Homo sapiens: one gene and its partner. The protein of the gene in region 2 purifies or fractionates together with the protein of the main gene of each other region. This does not show direct contact. Each region holds a gene or a part of one and is shown on either strand. Other genes may lie near its edges. The genes, in order: CTTNBP2NL and CTTNBP2.

What was found.
Region 1: the proteins of CTTNBP2 (region 2) and CTTNBP2NL purify together in Homo sapiens (affinity purification with mass spectrometry; one large-scale study listed by BioGRID and IntAct). This does not show direct contact.

What each region holds. Positions count from the first base shown.
Region 1 is NC_000001.11:112,458,111-112,461,664, forward strand, and holds the end of CTTNBP2NL (CTTNBP2 N-terminal-like protein), read left to right. Parts: 3' UTR 1-3,054; downstream 3,055-3,554. UniProt on the Homo sapiens protein: Regulates lamellipodial actin dynamics in a CTTN-dependent manner. Associates with core striatin-interacting phosphatase and kinase (STRIPAK) complex to form CTTNBP2NL-STRIPAK complexes.
Region 2 is NC_000007.14:117,786,301-117,790,128, reverse strand, and holds part of CTTNBP2 (cortactin-binding protein 2), read left to right. Parts: intron 1-3,828. UniProt on the Homo sapiens protein: Regulates the dendritic spine distribution of CTTN/cortactin in hippocampal neurons, and thus controls dendritic spinogenesis and dendritic spine maintenance.

The DNA of each region.
Region 1 (3,554 bases), on a different chromosome or scaffold from region 2:
AGTTTCCTGCATAAGTTCTTGAACAGAATGAAATCACATCTCCATTCAAAAAATGTCTCAAGCATCTACTGTTGTGTAAGGAACTTCTGATTCTGATTGCTGTTACTTGAATAGGAAATGGTTACTCATTCTGTATAAAAGTTTTGCAAGAGAATGAATTTTTTATTCTGTAATCAAAAAGCAATAACTTGAAATTCACTCTGTAATATTATAGGTCAGTCAGAATTATACAAGTTTTACCAAATTGTTACACTTATTCTCCAAGCTGCCAGAACCTGGTATCTGTATCTGTAAAACCAAATTAACTTTTGCTTAAATGGGAAGTATACATATATCTGTATAGATACATTACCCCTTTACATGTTTAACATACACACACTTAAACACATAAATACTAGTGTGATTATATCTTTGGAGTTTGCAATATAGCATAAAGGACAAGTAGAACTGCACATTAAGATTACCTACCGAAGCAACTAGATGTGGCTGGGACACAATCAAAGGAGGAATTTTGTCCACAGGAAGGTGAGGAAATTCCAAATGAAGCCTAGATCTTCAGTATCATAAAAAGGCAGAGCTGGCCAGGCACAGTGGCTCATGCCTGTAATCTTATCACTTTGGGAGGCTGAGATGGGAGGATCTCTTGAGACCAGGTGTTCAAGACCAGCCTCATCAACATAGTGAGACCCCATCTCTATTAAAAAAATAAATAGGCAGAGCTAAACTAACCCCAGTGTCACAAAACTCAACTGGTCATATAAATGAGTGAAACAGGCCTCTCACACAAGCGATGTAAAACAGCTGGGAGCAGTGGGAGCTGTGGCAAACTAAAGTGCCCAAGCCGCATTTAAAAAGGGCATCTGTTCAGCTCCATCTGCTTGCTGCGGTGCAAGAATGCTAAACCAGGATTACCAGTTCTTCACATTTTTTGAAATCCAAATTTTCATGAGAAACATTCTCATTTTTAAATATCAAGAAGTGATTTTAAAATGTTTAAATGGTGCTGGTTAAACAAACACGTCTGCAGCTGGATTTAGCTTGCAAGCTGCCAAGTTGCAACCTCTTTCATTCTAGAAACTTCTGTCATTTTCATCATAGCAAGTCTATGCGGACAAAAGCCTCCAAACTTTCCAACTGTGTAGGCCAGTACAGCTGGCAAGGTTCATAGAATATAATGGCTATCCCCCTCTGCCAAATAAGACTATCCACAACCCAGCTCAGACACAGTGGTTATATGATTTTGTGTCCATACAGGAGAGGCCTTGGTGTCTTCACATACATTCTCTGAGCCAACATCTATCCAGCAGCCCTGACCTCCTGCTATAATTTAAGTCTATTTCCTTTTAATCTAATAAGAGTTGATAGTAAAAAGGCAGGTGATGGAAATCAGTGTATAAATCACAATGGAGTATATTGGCAACTCCACAGCTTATAGTTTGATAAAGGCAAATACATGAAAAATAAAAATGCTACTAATGCCCCAAGGTGTCTATCAAAATGATGTAGGGGGTATCTTAAACTGTCCAAGGCAATCATGCATTGAACTTTATTCCTATGCAGAGCCAAAACGAATAGTGTTGATAAAATAGCTAAACTTTCTAAACTGGAGAGGAGGCTACAGTGCCAGAGAGTTATTGTCTCTTTTGCTTTAAATGGTAATCTTAAAAGTTGCATTGTGCTCTTCCTTTGTTTTGGGATAGATATATATAGAGAGAGATACTATAAGGAAGTTTATTTCTTAGGAAGTGCACTGAATAATGTATTTCTTTTACAGTGTAATATGGGGGTGGGGATATGCGAAAGAAATGTGTATTTTTGCTAGTTGCCTACCTTCTGAGATAAATAAGCACAATCTTGCAATGGATCCAATAACCCAGTTAGGTATTATAGATTAGTATTTAAGTTTGCTGTAGATTGTGTGTGTGTGTGCTAAGTAAAAGTTCCATGATTCACAATTTTAGTATTAACCCATGTTGCAAAAGCTGTTACTGGCCAACAGATTGTAATGATGTGTACCATATAACACAAGCATTAACTAGGCATTAACGTTTGTAAAGCCAAATATACCATGCAGAAGTCTTCATTTTTATAGCAGACTGCATTAAAACAAGTTAAATCTTGCTGTTTGGGGGGAAATAGTCTTGTTTGTACAAAGTGAAAAATGGCACAATTTGGGCATATTTTGTTGGGAAGAGGGGGTGGTGTAGAGGGAGCACTTGACTGTGGCTTTGACAAAACAAATGAAGTCAATGACCCATCCAGGTTAGACTCCATAAGGAACTAAGACATTGATTTTCTTTAGAGTCTTAGAGCTGGAAAAAGCCTTTACAATAATCCAGTCTGTGATTTTTTAAACCTTTTGGTGGTTCTGGACCTTTTTGAGAATCTTAGAAAAGCCATGGAGTTTATCCCTAGAAAAATGAATATGCCTATATGCAAAATTTGTTTGATGGCTTCATAGGATCCAAAGACCCTGAAGCCATCCATGGCTCATGTATTTCTGCTTAAGAAAGCATAATCTTGTTCTGCTCTCTCATTTTACAAATGATTAATGCATCCCTTTTCAACTACTCCAGCGCTGTTGCTGCTGCAATGTTAGCAAATGCAAGCCAGAGAGAAGCACTTGAAAATCCTTTGATGTCTAAAAAATGTTCAAATAGTGTGGATGTTTACATATCTGAAGTTTTCAGCATTTAAGCAAATTAATGATCATTTCAACAAATACTAGCATATCCGGTTTCCCTTAATAGCCTGTCAGCAGTGCTGCCTTGTCAATTTGTGTGTGTGTGTGTGTATGTGTGTGTGTGTGTGAATTCATAAGGAGTGCTTCTGATGCTTAGTCCTTGAAATGGAACTTCAACTGTCTTTCAAAACACTGGCTTCAAAATAGGATGTGTTTTCCTAATGAATCAGAAGTGGGCAATGAGCATTGTTCCACAGGAATAATTTTTAATTTAATTTCTATAAAACTAGTTGAGAAATGAGAGCCTGTCCACCCACCATTTGTGTATCAGTGGCCAATTCATTAGTAAAAATAAAGGAGGGGAAAGGAGACTGGAGTAGTGGTTCTCAAACTTTACTGTGCGTAAGTATAACCTGGGAAGCCTGCTAAAATAAAGATTTCTGGAGATTAGATCCTCAGACTAGCTGATGCAGCTAGTCTGTTTTGAGAAACAGTCCTTCATAGCCCTTACCTGTTCTTTCACAACAACTTGCTATTTGCCTCTGACCTAAGGAAATGTCTTAAGCTCCTGAAACTGGTTTGGCAGAATGTCAGTGATATTCAGAGTCAAGAGTGCCTACTTGAGTACCAAGCACCATGCTAATGATTTCACATACATATTACCTTATTAATCCTCACACGGGTGCTGTGAGGTATTATTATCCCCAGTGTAGTGATGAGGTAGTTGAGGGCCAGAGATCTGTGCAAGGGCCCTTAGCATATGACAGCCAGGATTTAAACCTTAGTGCTTTGTTCTTTCACTACCAGTATTTCCCAAATGAGAGTCTCTGGGGAGGAGCAGATTCCCAGGCTCCTCCCCTGGCGATTCTGA
Region 2 (3,828 bases):
GTTGGTGGAGATTGTTGGTTCAAATGGGAGAGAACTTTTATAATTACAGGAAGGTTTGAACAGTTGTTATATTTAATACTTTGAGGGGAGAGAGAGAAAAGCAAATAGCATCATATTTGCTAATTATCAGGTGATGACAGCAGTACACTAGGATTTATTTGTCCAATTATAAGCTATCAACTTGAAATTAAGGTCTTTGAGAGGCTTTATCCATATTTTGAGGGGCGAAATAGGGAATTGGAAGCAGCATGGACTTGGAAGTTAGATCTATGTTGAAATCTAGTCTCTGCCATTTACAATTGTGCATTTTTGGTGACTTCTTTTGCTACTCATATGGGGGAGGGTGGCTGTTAGGAGGATTGGATCCTATAACCTGTCAGCTTGGTATTGAGCTTAGAATAGCATGAGTAATCAATAAATAGAGGTGATATTACTGCTTCAATGATATTGTTGCTTACAGTATTTTTGAGAATTTGCTATGGAATTGACTTTAGTATTATTTTGAGATGTCTTTACAGGCATTCAGCATTCTATATTTTTGATCCAAAATGGTATTACTGAGTTGAACAGCTTTTCTCGTGGCCTAAAATAATTTTGGCTGTTTCTTACAAATTAAATCCACCCTCAGAGAGGAATTTTGCTACTCAGGAGAATAGAGAATGTACTATAAGATCTTTGGGCAGTCACAAAACACAAGTTCCAGAAATGTGTGGAGCAGTGGCAGTGCTATTGCCATAAATGCATAGACTGTAAAGTAGAAAACACTTCCTAGGATATAGAAGTTTTGTCACTTAAAAAAAATACAAAGCCATCTTTACTTTGAGACCTTGAGGCTTTGCCACTTGTTGCCTTAGTCATTACTGTGGTCCTGGGTTTAGCTGCATGTGCCCTTTGGTTTCGGCAGAGAAGCTTTAAAACCAGGATCTATGACTGAGGAACATTTTGTCAACAGGATTGAAAAGTTAACGGATTAAAATCTGTTAACTTTTAAAGACAGAGATTTACTAATCTATTATCTATTCACCAGGATATCCTGCCCTAGGATTCAGTAAAATTTTACATAAAAGAGCTATAACTCCTCTGAAAAATGCCCTTCACTTATGTCTGGAGAGCAAAAGACAATATAGACCAGAAACCAAAAAAAATACCAGCGACTGAAGATACGGAAATCGGATTCCTTATTTTCTACTCTCTGACTTTTGCAATTTTACCAAAGTATTTTATTTATTTATTCCTCTCAGAACTTCTGAATTACTTTTGGTAGAATAACCAGTTTCTATGTCATTTGCTTAGAAGATGTGGCTTATTAAGGGAGAACGGAGGCACTGGAGGCCTTGAGTCATTCAGCAAGTGTTTACTGAGCACCTAGACTGGGAAATGGAAGTGTGATTACACTTACACAATGGGGGTGTACGACTCTACAACTCAAGTATAAATGTAGTTCAGCTGATCTTTCCAAATAAGATAGAGGATTTCAACTCTGTTTTGCATTTAGATTGCCCCTATTTTCGCCACTGTGACCATTGCAACTAAGAAACACCAGAGCTGCCTCCACCCTGCTTACTAACCTGTCTGTGCCTGGTTGAGCTTGTGCCTCTCCAGGTCATGAGCCCTTTGAAGGGGATTAACCTTCCAAACAGCCACTGATTCCATTGTGATTGCCCAAAGCAAGGCACAGGGACAACACACATCTGTCAAATACCTGGCAGGTGTCTCTTCCAATTTCAGTGATCAAACAAGCACTGAACTAAGTATAGTAAGGCAGGATTAGTCCATTTCTGCCCCTTTCTAAGTATCACCCTAGAGAGCTAATTCCCTCTGAGCCATTAGCTTTTTCATTTAAAAACAAAAGCATTGCTGGCTGCAGTAATCATACCTGTAATCCAAGCACATTGGGAGGCCGAGGCAGGAGGATCACTTGTGCCCAGGCGTTCAAGACCAGCCGGGGCAAAATGGCAAAATCCCATCTTTACAAAAAATATAAAAATTAGCTGGGCATGGTAGTGTGTGCCTGTGGTCCCAGCTACTCAGGAGGCTGAAGTGGGAAGATCACTTGAATTCGGGAAGTCAAGGCTACAGTGAGCCATAATCATGCCACTGTGCACCAGCCTGGGTGACACGGTGAGACCATGTCTCAAAACATTAAACCAAAATTATATAATAATATTCCCGAACAAAAAAAGATTTAAACTTGCATGATAAATTTTCAAACTACCTCTCCCTCCTTGGAGAACTACTGGCCCATGATCTTTCCAACTCTAGAATCCTGTGTTTCCATGTAAGCTTTTATCTATAAAAATTATGACTAAGTTAGAGCCCCAAGGAAAATTGGAATGACAGAAGTTAGCCTTTTAATGAATTGTAGTATAAATTACCCAAACTCTATTTGGCAACCTTTATAGCCAAATGTTAAATTTTTTAATAACATTCTTAATTCTAAATGAACTAGAATTTCTTGTTCCTCCTGAACTTGCCAAATAGACACATTTCAAATGTTAGATGAACAGAAGCCTAAACCAGAAATCACTCCAGGCAACTGAGTTTCCATACCCTTGGAAATTGTTTTTTCTGTTTTTTCTTTTTTTATTTGATACATTTGATTTAATTTGGTTTACACCTTTTCCCTATTGAAACATATCTTTTAAAAATTATCCTCCATGTATGATTGGCTTAAAGGCTAAATCAGAAAACAAGAATGATCTGGGCTATGACATTAACCTTCTCCACCCTCTGAAGCTGATGCCAGAAGCTGTTCTCACTCCTTCCCTCTGCCATTGCATGTCCAGTCATTCCCTTCCTCCTGGCATGTTGTGCAGGATGCTCACCTTACTAATGTTTGCGTATGACACTGCAAAACTGATTGACCTTTTGCTAACATCATTAGAGTAGCTGTATGAATACCGGTCTGTTCTGTCTTAACCACTATTTAACCTCTTAACTAAGTATTACCATTTTTATGATTGTCGGGAATTTCAGATGAACAGTATAGTCTCATGATGAAGTCCTATTTTTCCCATATTTAGGCAGGATTTATTAAAATAAGCTTGTCTATGCTAGACAACATTGGAAATGTTAGTGAAGATATAAAACATATTTACAGTTTTAAAATACTTGGTATTTATAAAGCATTTTTCTTTTGTAAAGATTTTAAAAATATATTGCAGACCTCTAAAAAAATAAGGCAACTGATATATCTTCTGTAGTTCTGTGTAAGAAAACCCTTGAGTGGTCTAAAGATTGAAAACAAATTGAAAAAAAAATTTGTCTTTCGGATAACTTATTAAAAATAGGGTTTCCCAGGAAATTACAGCTGCAATTGAATATTTCCATATAAGGCAGTTGAAAAATATATTTAAACTGTCTCCTCCCCTCAAAAGCCTAGATTTATGGTGAAAAAAGAAAAATGTAAACAAAACCCAAAAGAATAGCAAACCATTTACATATATTGGTATTCATAAAAGAATATCAACAACCAAGACCCCTTGGATGAGATCTAAAGAGAGAATGAAAGAGAGGCTGAGTATGAGCCCCATTCCCTCCTGTTCCACAGAGGACTGTAGTGCGATGCCTTCATATTGCCTGTGTTTGCTTTGCAGTCGAGGTTTTATGCCTTCGTGTTTATAATTTCTCTGTTTATGCATTTCTAATAAGTACTGATTTAATTTTTGTGGGCCTGTTTTTTGTTTGTTTGTTTGTTTTTAAGAAAATACAAAAGGTAAAATGTACCAGAGAGGAGCCTTCTTGTAAGTATGAAGTAAAAATACTACTTTTGTAAGAAGAGCTAATGAGTATCAGTAGGAAAATATCATAAAGTTTAGATAAATATTG